Homo sapiens: one gene and its partner. The protein of the gene in region 1 interacts with the protein of each later gene in a biochemical or structural test. Each region holds a gene or a part of one and is shown in the gene's direction. Other genes may lie near its edges.

Evidence for each region. The genes of interacting proteins can lie anywhere in the genome.
Region 2: the proteins of DRD5 (region 1) and GNAZ form a complex in vitro, tested with the Homo sapiens proteins (one study listed by BioGRID).

Annotation. Positions count from the first base shown.
Region 1 is NC_000004.12:9,776,115-9,785,389, forward strand, and holds DRD5 (D(1B) dopamine receptor), read left to right. Parts: upstream 1-5,519; 5' UTR 5,520-5,915; coding exon 5,916-7,349; 3' UTR 7,350-7,895; downstream 7,896-9,275. Other genes in the region: SLC2A9 (solute carrier family 2, facilitated glucose transporter member 9), read right to left, coding at 3,753-3,951. UniProt on the Homo sapiens protein: Dopamine receptor whose activity is mediated by G proteins which activate adenylyl cyclase.
Region 2 is NC_000022.11:23,122,519-23,125,532, forward strand, and holds the end of GNAZ (guanine nucleotide-binding protein G(z) subunit alpha), read left to right. Parts: coding exon of another isoform or gene 1-132; exon of another isoform or gene 133-184; intron 185-568; coding exon 569-913; 3' UTR 914-2,514; downstream 2,515-3,014. UniProt on the Homo sapiens protein: Guanine nucleotide-binding proteins (G proteins) are involved as modulators or transducers in various transmembrane signaling systems.

The DNA of each region.
Region 1 (9,275 bases):
TGAAAGCAAGTAGACAGGAAGCCAAGACTGATGCCCAAGTCAGAGAGGTGCTGAGGAAAGAAGTCTTTCTTTCTTTTTTTTTTTTTTTGACAGAGTTCTGAATGTTTCAGAGTAGTCCAAGTACACCCAAAAGCACAATAATTAAATGAGGGGCAGGAGAGTGGCTTAGAAGAAGATTGTTTTTCTGGATTCAGCTCCAACAAAGTTTGTTCCGCAGGTCTTGGTGCTGTGCGATCATCCTTCTCGCCACTGATATTCAGCCTGGATACCCCACTGTTGCTCTAACAGGGAGGAAAATATTTTCCTGCCACTGCCCTGAGCCTCCTGACTGACCCCAGCTACCTTGGACATCCCAGCTTTTGGGACTACCCCAGACCTCCCTATAACCAGCAATCAGAGGCCGGCACAGCAAGAGTGCTTTGAAATGCTGCCTGGTGCTCCAGGGTGACAGGCAGCACCTGCTGTCATTGGTTGGTGTCTGTGCAGTATTTGCTAGAGTTTTGTGGATCTCAGCCTTGAAACCTGTGTCTTTGTACAGTCAAAGGGTCTGAGTTGGGAGAAGGCACCTAGATATGCTCCACCATAGCGTTCTGGTGTTTCCTGTCATCCCTGAAGCCTCCGAGTTCTTATAACAGGGGCTTAAAGACTGTAGCATTGAGATATGAAGGCTCGTAGTTATTGTCCAGTTCAGAGGACATTAATTCCAGGTATCTGGAACTTAGAACAAATCCTCATGCCCTCACCATGGCAACAGGGCTCACCTCCTCTGTCTCATACCTCTCCCTCCCGTGGCCACTATTGCTACAGATATCCTGACCCTTTTACCTCTTTATCAAATAAGCTCACTCTGCCCCAGGGCCTTTACATGGGCTTACTTTCCTCCAAGATGACAACTCATCCTGAAGCAGCTTTTCCCTTCAATCCAGCTACTCCCTCTTTTGTTATTCTGTTTGATTTTATTTATAGCATTTAGCACTGTATGACATTGTTTATTTTGAAATTGTTTATTTCTCTCTCCTCAATAATATAAGCCCAAGAAAGATAAGGAATATGTTTTTAATTCTGTTTCTGTCCCCGGGCCCTAGAATAGGGTCTGGGAGATGGTTGCAGCAGAATCCCTAGCTGAAATGGCAATCTTGTGCTAATTAGAAAAAAAGAGCTCCCTTGCCCCCGTCTCTGTTTCTTTTTTTTTTTTTTTTAGATGGAATCTCCCTCTGTTACCGAGGCTGGAGTGCAGTGGTGTGATCTTGAAGAGAGCCCTTTCTTGATATACTTTATCATCTTCTGCTAGAAGTTTTTCTATACTCATTATAAAAACCCACCCTATCTGTCACTTACACACCATGTATTGTCTTGCTTCCACCCCATCAAAAATGCTTGTGGAATGAATGGATTGGTGAAAGTCAGGGGGACTGGAACATCTGAAAACAAATGTCAGTGTGTGGCCAGCGTCTGTGCACCTTTCTTGGTTGATTGAAACTTCTGTGCATTGATTTCATGGTGTTGGGCACAGAATCCCCTTTTTGCTCATTACCAACAAAGATTTGTCAAGCACCCACTCACTGTGTTCGCTTGGGGAATTCAGACATGAACAAGACACAATTTCTTGATTTAAGAGGCTGAGATTCTAGAGGGCCAGGCGGTGATGTGAAAGATGGTGTAGTCCAGGGTCATAACGGCTGCACTAGGAGCCAGCCCAGGGCTCTCCTGGAACACAGGACACCTGTTCAGTGCAGAGGACTCAGTAAGTCTTTCTGGAGAACTGATTGAGCTGGCTTTGCAGGATGGAGAGGTTCAAACATTGCTAAGTGCTTTGTACAACTTATAAAAATCCATGTTGCCCAGTCTCCAAGCAGTCTCATGTTCAGTAGACAAAAGGCAATTTTCAAACTGAAATGTTTTACTTGCATTTCTACTTCTATTTTCTTTCTTTCTTTCTTTCCTTCCTTCCTTCCTTCCTTCCTTCCTTCCTTCCTTCCTTCCTTCCTTCCTTCTTTCCTTCTCCCCGCCTCCCCCGAGTCTTGCTCTGTTGTCCAGCAGACTGGAGTGCAGTGGTGCGATCTCGGCTCACTGCAACCTCCAACTCCTGGGTTTGAGTAATTCTCCTGCCTCAGCCACCTCTCTCTCTTTCTGTAGCTGGGGTTACAGACACATCCCACCACGCCTGGCTAATTTTTGCATTTTTAGTAGAGACGGGGTTTCACCATGTTGGCCAGGCTCTTCTTGAACTCCTGACTTCAAGTGATCCACCTGCTTCAGCCTCCCAAAGTACTGGGATTACAGGTGTGGGCCACCGCACCCGGCCCTTTACTTGCATTTCTTAAGTTGTGTGAAGTCAGCAGGGATTGTTCTCTAGAATTCCCTTTTACTCTCCTATCCATATTCCCCCAGATCGTAGTTCCCTCACCTCTTTCACACAATCTTCCCTGCAAAACTCCACCCACAGCTTTCAATACCTCTCCCCACTTCTCTGCTCTTTATTGGGAAGACAAGCACAGTTTCTTCCTTTTGGGACCATTCCTCCCTCCTCCGGCTTTTCAGGTCTAATAATGTATCCATTCTCTATCACAAAAGCCAAGCTAGAATCCTCTTTGGAGCACCGCCCAGGTCAAGAAACTGCACAGATAGAGCAGAGGGAGAAAGGAGGTTCAGAACACTCATGCATTAATTGTTTTGGTCTCATCACAGTTTCTTTTTTTTTCTTTCTTTCTTTTCTTCTTTTTGTAATGGAGTCTCACTCTGTCACCCAGGCTGGAGTGCAGTGGTGCGATCTTGGCTCACTGCAACCTCTGCCTCCCGCACACCACCATGCCTAGGTAAGTTTTGTATTTTTAGTAGAGACGGGGTTTCACCATGTTGGTCAGGATGGTCTCGATCTCCTGACTTCATGATCTACTTGCCTCACCCTCCCACAGTGCTGGGATTACAGGCATGAGCCACCACACCTGGCTGGTCTCATCACACTTTCTAAACGACTATTATTAACTCACTTCCCAGATGAGAGAACTGAAGCTCAGAGAGATCAAGCGACCTGCCCAATATACCAAAGCTAGTAAGTGCCTATTCTTCCTGCCTGCCATACTTCCCTTCCCTCTGTCTTCCCCTTTGCCTACTTAACTGTGATTCAACCCAAAGAGAAATTTCCCCAGAAAGCCTTCCCTAAACATCTTGCCTTGGCCAACCTCCCCAACTGCTGTACACTTAGATAAGGCTGTGAACTTTCCCTTCACAGCCCTTGTCACATTTGTAATTGTGTATTTCTTTGGATTATTCCTGGGTTAAAGTCTATCTAGACTTTAAACTTTTTTTTTTTTTTTTGAGACGGAGTCTGGCTCTGTCACCCAGGCTGGAGTGTGGTGGTGTGATCTCGGCTCACTGCAAGCTCCGCCTCCTGGGTTCACGCCATTCTCCTGCCTCAGCCTCCCAAGTAGCTGGGACTACAGGCGCCCGCCACCATGCTCAGCTAATTTTTTGTATTTTTAGTAGAGAGGGAGTTTCACCATGTTAGCCAGGATGGTCTCAATCTCCTGACCTCACGATCCACCCACCTCGGCCTCCCAAAGTGCTGGGATTACAGGCGTGAGCCACCGTGCACAGCCTAGACTTCAAGCTTTTAGAATAGCATCTCTCTCTCTCTCTCTCTCTCTCTCTCTCCCTCCCATTGTATAACCAGTGGGTAAAACAACATATGGGACATGTCAGTACTTGTTAAATATTTGCTGAATAAAAGAATGAATGACTGGAATTCAAACCCATGTCTCCAAAATCCAAGCTCTTGTCTGACATCATGACTTGGTGTTCTCCAGGAGAAGAAGATAGGGGAAGGTCATTCCAGGTTGAGGAAATACCACATGACCGTTTACAATGGGTGTTCTTTTTTGGTGGCGGTGGTGGTGGCGGCAGCTTGAATCCAGGCTGTATTCGGAGTAGTGAAAGGAGAAGAAGCAGGAGCTGTGGACAAAGACAAGGGCAATATGAGGAAAAGACCTTGCATGCCTGGCCAGGAACAGGGGCCACAGGGAGCTGATCATGAAACACACTGACGGTGTTTCATCAGGGGAGTGACATGAACATAGTCACATTCAGGAAAGATCACTGCCTGCTGGGAAGACAGAGGGTCAGGGCAGAGACTGGAGGCCAGGAAAGTGCCACCATCAAACAGGATGGAGGAGGCACAATTCTGGACAGGGATGTCCATGGCCAGAGGAGTGGTCCAGCTCCCAGAAGATGAGGAGAGACCAGAGGTGAGGATGGCCCTTCAGTTTCAGGTTTAGGCACCTGGACAGATGGTCTTGCCCTCTCCAGCGGCAAAAAGCACTGAGGGGGAAGGAGGTTGGGGGAAGGGACTGTGTAGGCTGAGCAGCTTAAGTCTGAGAAGGTGGGCCACTTGCAGATGTTGGTCCAGGGTACAGGTGCGTTTGGTGGAGGGGGAGACTAGGAAGGGAGGAGAAAGTCCAGTCTGTTTCTAGACCTCACCATGCTGCAGGTGTCTGGGCCAGCAGGTCGCAGCCGGAGCTATGCAGCTGGCTGCTGTCACATCCCTTTCTCTCCCAGCTGCCTTCAGCTGAGCTTAACGCCAGTAGAGGCCGAAACACTTCACAAATGCAACTTGTCAGCTGGGAGGTGCACTCAGAGCTCAGGAACACTGTTTTCCCTCTTTATTGTTTTCCATCATTCTTTTTTTTCAGTTTGGGTTTTGGGCCCCGTCAGTTCCTTTTCTGTTAAACACTGAGCTATTTATCCATCCCTCTCAAGGTTGAAAAAGAGAAAGGCTGTAAAAGTGCCCTGCAAAGAAGAGGCCTCCAACTCTATGGGGGTGGGGGGCTCTCTTCCTCCTCTTGTCTTCTGAGTTCATTCCGAATTATTCCCCAAAGGAAAAATCGTTCAAGGACTGGGGGCGGTGGTGGGGAAAAGGACAATCTCCCAAGAGGTCAGCTGAAGCCCCAGCCTCAGGGTGTTGAGAGAGGGGCTGGGGGAAGCGGGAGCCTGTTCCTAGGAGACACTGTCTACTGGACACCTCATCCTAGACGGCTTCCATGAGTTCTGACACTGTCCCAGGAGTAGGAATCATTATCCCACGCTGTGGAGAAGGAAACCAAGGCCGGGTAAAGTTATGTAGGGCCCTTAAAGTCGCAGAGCCAGGAATAAAGTCCGGATTGGGACTCGGGTCTGTGGGTAATCCAAGGCTGCCCCGCTTACCCTTCAAATGCTCTTTCCCCCTCCGGAAGCCCTCGCGTCCTCATCCTTACCCCACCTCTTGTTCCCCAAGCGTGGCCAGGGCTAAGGCTCCAGGGATGCGCCAAGCACCCTTCGGTTTTCCCGGGGAGAATTTTCCCCGGCCCGGGGACTAGGGTCTGGCGCTGGGGCGCCCCTCGGACCTGCGGGATCGCCCCTACACTCTGGCGCGCTGAGGGCGGTGAGCGAGGGCGCCAAGGCACAGGTGGGGCGGGAGTCGAGCGCGGAGGCTCGGGGGGCGGGACGCGGGGCCTGGGAGCGGCCAGGGACCGCGGCAGCGCCTCAGTGCCAGCCTGGCGCCCGCGACTGCCTGCCCCAGCCCCTCAGTGGCGGCTTGCTCTCTTCTCTCGCTCCGAACCAGACACAGCCGCTGCCGCTGCCGTCCGGCGCGCTACAGACTCCCGAGAACAGCCCTGGCTGTCAGCGAGCACCAGCCGCTTCCTGTCCCCATCGCGGAGACTGGAGGGGCGCACCACGGCCATGGAGCCAGAGGCGCTTCAGGAGGCAAGAGAAGTCCCCGCGCGCTCCGCAGCCCGGCGCAGCTCATGGTGAGCGCCCTCTGGGGCTCGAGGGTCCCTTGGCTGAGGGGGCGCATCCTCGGGGTGCCCGATGGGGCTGCCTGGGGGTCGCAGGGCTGAAGTTGGGACCGCGCACAGACCGCCCCTGCAGTCCAGCCCGAAATGCTGCCGCCAGGCAGCAACGGCACCGCGTACCCGGGGCAGTTCGCTCTATACCAGCAGCTGGCGCAGGGGAACGCCGTGGGGGGCTCGGCGGGGGCACCGCCACTGGGGCCCTCACAGGTGGTCACCGCCTGCCTGCTGACCCTACTCATCATCTGGACCCTGCTGGGCAACGTGCTGGTGTGCGCAGCCATCGTGCGGAGCCGCCACCTGCGCGCCAACATGACCAACGTCTTCATCGTGTCTCTGGCCGTGTCAGACCTTTTCGTGGCGCTGCTGGTCATGCCCTGGAAGGCAGTCGCCGAGGTGGCCGGTTACTGGCCCTTTGGAGCGTTCTGCGACGTCTGGGTGGCCTTCGACATCATGTGCTCCACTGCCTCCATCCTGAACCTGTGCGTCATCAGCGTGGACCGCTACTGGGCCATCTCCAGGCCCTTCCGCTACAAGCGCAAGATGACTCAGCGCATGGCCTTGGTCATGGTCGGCCTGGCATGGACCTTGTCCATCCTCATCTCCTTCATTCCGGTCCAGCTCAACTGGCACAGGGACCAGGCGGCCTCTTGGGGCGGGCTGGACCTGCCAAACAACCTGGCCAACTGGACGCCCTGGGAGGAGGACTTTTGGGAGCCCGACGTGAATGCAGAGAACTGTGACTCCAGCCTGAATCGAACCTACGCCATCTCTTCCTCGCTCATCAGCTTCTACATCCCCGTTGCCATCATGATCGTGACCTACACGCGCATCTACCGCATCGCCCAGGTGCAGATCCGCAGGATTTCCTCCCTGGAGAGGGCCGCAGAGCACGCGCAGAGCTGCCGGAGCAGCGCAGCCTGCGCGCCCGACACCAGCCTGCGCGCTTCCATCAAGAAGGAGACCAAGGTTCTCAAGACCCTGTCGGTGATCATGGGGGTCTTCGTGTGTTGCTGGCTGCCCTTCTTCATCCTTAACTGCATGGTCCCTTTCTGCAGTGGACACCCCGAAGGCCCTCCGGCCGGCTTCCCCTGCGTCAGTGAGACCACCTTCGACGTCTTCGTCTGGTTCGGCTGGGCTAACTCCTCACTCAACCCCGTCATCTATGCCTTCAACGCCGACTTTCAGAAGGTGTTTGCCCAGCTGCTGGGGTGCAGCCACTTCTGCTCCCGCACGCCGGTGGAGACGGTGAACATCAGCAATGAGCTCATCTCCTACAACCAAGACATCGTCTTCCACAAGGAAATCGCAGCTGCCTACATCCACATGATGCCCAACGCCGTTACCCCCGGCAACCGGGAGGTGGACAACGACGAGGAGGAGGGTCCTTTCGATCGCATGTTCCAGATCTATCAGACGTCCCCAGATGGTGACCCTGTTGCTGAGTCTGTCTGGGAGCTGGACTGCGAGGGGGAGATTTCTTTAGACAAAATAACACCTTTCACCCCGAATGGATTCCATTAAACTGCATTAAGAAACCCCCTCATGGATCTGCATAACCGCACAGACATTGACAAGCACGCACACACACGCAAATACATGCCTTTCCAGTGCTGCTCCCTTTATCATGTGTTTCTGTGTAGTAGCTCGTGTGCTTAGAAACCTCACCCCATTGATTGGTAGTTCGAAGAATTGGCAGAAGCAGTTGCAATAAACTCAGTCAAATGTACCCAGCCTACCAGAGATGGACCAACGATCCTATGAGAGAAGAGAGTATGGTGCTGGGTCCTTAAAAAAAAAAATGATACTTGGTCCTTAAAAAATATGCTCTCCCCTCCCTTTTTAAACAAATGGCTTGTTCAGTCACTTGTTTGTGTTTGAATTGATTTTTAAACAGCAGGTTGTGTGTGTGTGCAGTGATGTGGTGGGAGCACAGCTTTCCTGGGTCTGGATTCCCGTGGCTTTGTGCTTATGTCATTTCTTCTCTCTGTGCTGGTGGGGGCCTCTTTACCATAGCTTAAGAAGTATCCCTGATTTATTCTGGTGTCTAATAAACACAGATTATTTGTATTATGGGGTGACTATCTTTGCTTTGCTACATTGGGTTTCAGGATTGCTTCTGAAGAAACGATGAGTGCATCCTTAAAATGCAAAGAAGATATTTGCTGGGTCTGGAAGTACATGCTTAATCTCTTTACAGTTTGGCCTTAAAGATACACCAGGGCAAAGGACCTTGAGGAGCTTCTGTTTTCTCAGGTTTCTTTTTATTACTTATACCCATGTTGGGTCTGTGCTGAAACCTGGCTTCAATGGCATGGCATTAGATCTTCTCAAGACCAGATGTTTTTTTTCTCATATGGAATCTTTTTTGAAGTAACATAAGACAACTCTCCTTATTCCTAGACAGATGCGATCAGTTCATTGAAAAGATCATGTAGAATAATATCTTGAATCTTTCTCCATCTGACAACTGTAGCATGTTTTAGAATGACATGGCTTTTGAGAAATCGTGTTTTCTGAAGAGCTTTGAAATGTGTGAATCAAGATGCTTTAAAAAAGAAACTCTATTTTTAAATAGGCATTTTCCTTAGTGGACAATAGCAAATAGGGAAATGCTTTTTAAGTAAAATGTAGAAGCCAGAGATGAAATGTGAATGAACTTGAAATTGGAAAATCTGTAGGTCGAGGTGCTCAATAGAAAAGCCCGGCTGACTCCAATCATTTTGTTTTTCCTCTCTGCAGTGTGCACAGCCAAGGGGAGTGTTTTATTCCAGACCCACACCAGTTGAGAGCATATTATTACCATCAGATCTAAATGTGAGCACTATTAATGGAAGCAAATGAAATGTGAATATGCAATTTCTTGCAAGTCCCTGCTTTGAAGCCGTTTTATCAAGGACAGTTCAATCAATTTTGATCTCTTTAAGGCTAATTTTATTGTCAGTCTTCTGTGCAGCCATATCTTGATCACTGCAAAATGTGCAGTTCCTGGCACATAGTGCTTAATAAATATTTGTTGAATGAATGACTATTTCTGGAACAGTGAGATTGAAAGCAAATCCTATTCAGTACATCAATTTTTATATATAATTTAGTCAAAATGATACTGGAATCTGAGGTCCGTGTTCAGTTTCTGACCTCCTGTGAATGGATAGCTAAGCGAACCATTAGGCAACATTAGGGGCAGTGAAAAGCACCCAGCTCTAGGATTCAGGAGATCGTCGCATGACCTTGAGTGAGTCAATTAACCTTTCTGGGCCTCATTTTCTGTCTGTGTCTGTAAATGGAAAGACTTCAACTAGATCACTGTTTACCCAATTGTGCTTTGTGATGCATATGTTAATGGATGGGGTCTCTGGTGAAATAAGTTCAGCAAACCCAGGTTCAACACCTGTTTTCTCGATAGGACTTCTTAGAGCTTCTCCTGTGCATGATGCATCCTCCAGTGGG
Region 2 (3,014 bases), on another chromosome or scaffold:
TTTGGTTACAGAAGTGAAGGCTGCTCCCTCACAGACTTCCTAGTGTCCGATGGTACCACATGGAAGGATCAGAGTTTTGAAGGACTGGGCCAGAACCCAGATAGGGCACAAGGCTGCCAGCGCCTGCATTGAGGGAGCTATGATGTGACGGGGGCTCCTGCAGAAGATGGCCTTCCTTGTACAGGTGTGGGGCAGCCTGTGGATGGGCAGTGGGAAGATGGGGGGTCCTCGGAGCTGGAGGTGCCCAGCGGTTTAGGAGGCTGTGCTTGGCACATCTGTAGCCCCAAAGCTATATGTTGAGATCACTGGCACCCAGAGGAGAGACCCAAAAGGGGCAAGAGAACATCTTCCAAGCACTTGCCACTGGCAAGGAGGGTGCTGCCGGCTATTTCCGTGGGAGGTGGGTGAAGACATTTAACCTGGGCTTCCCCAGCAGAAGGAGGTGCCATTGCAGGGACCAGTCTTGGGCTGAGACCCTAGCAAAGGCTTCCTCTGGCAGGGCTGCAGGTCTAGGGTCTGTCTCTGCCTGCTGCGGGCCTGATTAACGCCAGTACTTTCCTTTCCCCAGAGTCGGATGGCAGAGAGCTTGCGCCTCTTTGACTCCATCTGCAACAACAACTGGTTCATCAACACCTCACTCATCCTCTTCCTGAACAAGAAGGACCTGCTGGCAGAGAAGATCCGCCGCATCCCGCTCACCATCTGCTTTCCCGAGTACAAGGGCCAGAACACGTACGAGGAGGCCGCTGTCTACATCCAGCGGCAGTTTGAAGACCTGAACCGCAACAAGGAGACCAAGGAGATCTACTCCCACTTCACCTGCGCCACCGACACCAGTAACATCCAGTTTGTCTTCGACGCGGTGACAGACGTCATCATACAGAACAATCTCAAGTACATTGGCCTTTGCTGAGGAGCTGGGCCCGGGGCCCGCCTGCCTATGGTGAAACCCACGGGGTGTCATGCCCCAACGCGTGCTAGAGAGGCCCAATCCAGGGGCAGAAAACAGGGGGCCTAAAGAATGTCCCCCACCCCTTGGCCTCTGCCTCCTTGGCCCCACATTTCTGCAAACATAAATATTTACGGATAGATTGCTAGGTAGATAGACACACACACATGCACACACACACATCTGGAGATGGCAAAATCCTCTAAAATGTCGAGGTCTCTTGAAGACTTGAGAAGCTGTCACAAGGTCACTACAAGCCCAACCTGCCCCTTCACTTTGCCTTCCTGAGTTGGCCCCACTCCACTTGGGGGTCTGCATTGGATTGTTAGGGATAGGCAGCAGGGCTGAGGCAAGGTAGGCCAACTGCACCCCTGTCGCCTGGAGGAGGGCCAGCTCGCTGCCCGAGCTCTGGCCTAGGGACCTTGCCGCTGACCAAGAGGGAGGACCAGTGCAGGGTCTGTGCACCTTCCCTGCTGGCCTGCACACAGCTGCTCAGCACCACTTTCATTCTGGACCTGGGACCTTAGGAGCCGGGTGACAGCACTAACCAGACCTCCAGCCACTCACAGCTCTTTTTAAAAAACAGCTTCAAAATATGCAGCAAAAACCAATACAACAAAACGAGTGGCACGATTTATTTCAAACTAGGCCAGCTGGGATTCCAGCTTTTCTTCTACTAGTCTGATGTTTTATAAATCAAAACCTGGTTTTCCTTCTCTGACATTTTTTTTTTGTTTTGTTTTTTGGTTTTTTTTTTTTTTTGGCCAAATCTCGTGGTGTTTCGCAGAAAAAAATCCAGAAAATTTCAAATGCAGTTGAGTATTCTTTTTTAAATGCAGATTTTCAAAACATATTTTTTTTCAGGTGGTCTTTTTTGTGTCTGGCTTGCTGAGTGTAAAAGTTGTTATCTGGACGATCTGTCTCTCTGCTCCAAAGAAATTTTGGAGTGAGTGGCAGTCCTGCGCCAGCCTCGCGGGACACGTGTTGTACATAAGCCTCTGCAGTGTCCTCTTGTTAATGGTGGGGTTTTCTGCTTTGTTTTTATTTAAGAAAATAAACACGACATATTTAAAGAAGGTTCTTTCACCTGGGAGCAAATGAACAATAGCTAAGTGTCTTGGTATTTAAAGAGTAAATTATTTGTGGCTTTGCTGAGTGAAGGAAGGGGAGCAAGGGGTGGTGCCCCTGGTCCCAGCATGCCCCGCGCCTGAGACTGGCTGGAAATGCTCTGACTCCTGTGAAGGCACAGCCAGCGTTGTGGCCTGAGGGAGGCCCTGCTGGGACCCTGATCTGGGCCTTCCTGTCCCAGGGCCTATGGGCAACTGCGTTGAAAGGACGTTCGCCAAGGGCCGTGTGTAAATACGAACTGCGCCATGGAGAGGAGAGGCACTGCCGGAGCCCTTGCCAGATCTCCCTCCCTCTCTCCGTGCAGTAGCTGTGTGTCCGAGGTCAGTGTGCGGAATCACAGCCAAGGACGTGAAGAGATGTACGGGGGAAAGAGAAGCTGGGGATTGGATGAAAGTCAAAGGTTGTCTACTTTAAGAAAATAAAATACCCTGAATGGAGCCCAGCATTGTCCCAGTGTGCTATGTGTGTAGCTGACCTGTGGCTGGACTTGGTGCCATCTGGAAGGGCAGCCGGGGACACCTCCATTCTGAGGTCCCATATTCCAAACCCCACCCCTATACCTCCACACATTTAGGTAGAGTCATTTTGCAATGAACATCACAAATAAACATCACGAGAGGAAAGAAACTGCAAAGAGGGGAAACCTGCCAGGTCCATGCAGTCCTGGTGTGGAGGTCTGGGGGTGATGATGACTCCTGCCCCTCCCGCTGCCCCCAAGACCCCACCCAACACTGACCCAGGCTGTGCCATACCCTGGACCCCTCCCACCATGTGGACACCTCAGCCAATGTCAGAGTCATCCTGCAGAGTGGAAGAGGTGCCCTGAGGGCCTGGAGGGTTCCTGTGCCCCCAGTAGTGTAGGGCAAACCTTGTAGGGTTTTGGAGAGGAGGGGTCCCTGAGCATGCAGTGCTCGCTGACTGGCTTGTGTGGTTAGAG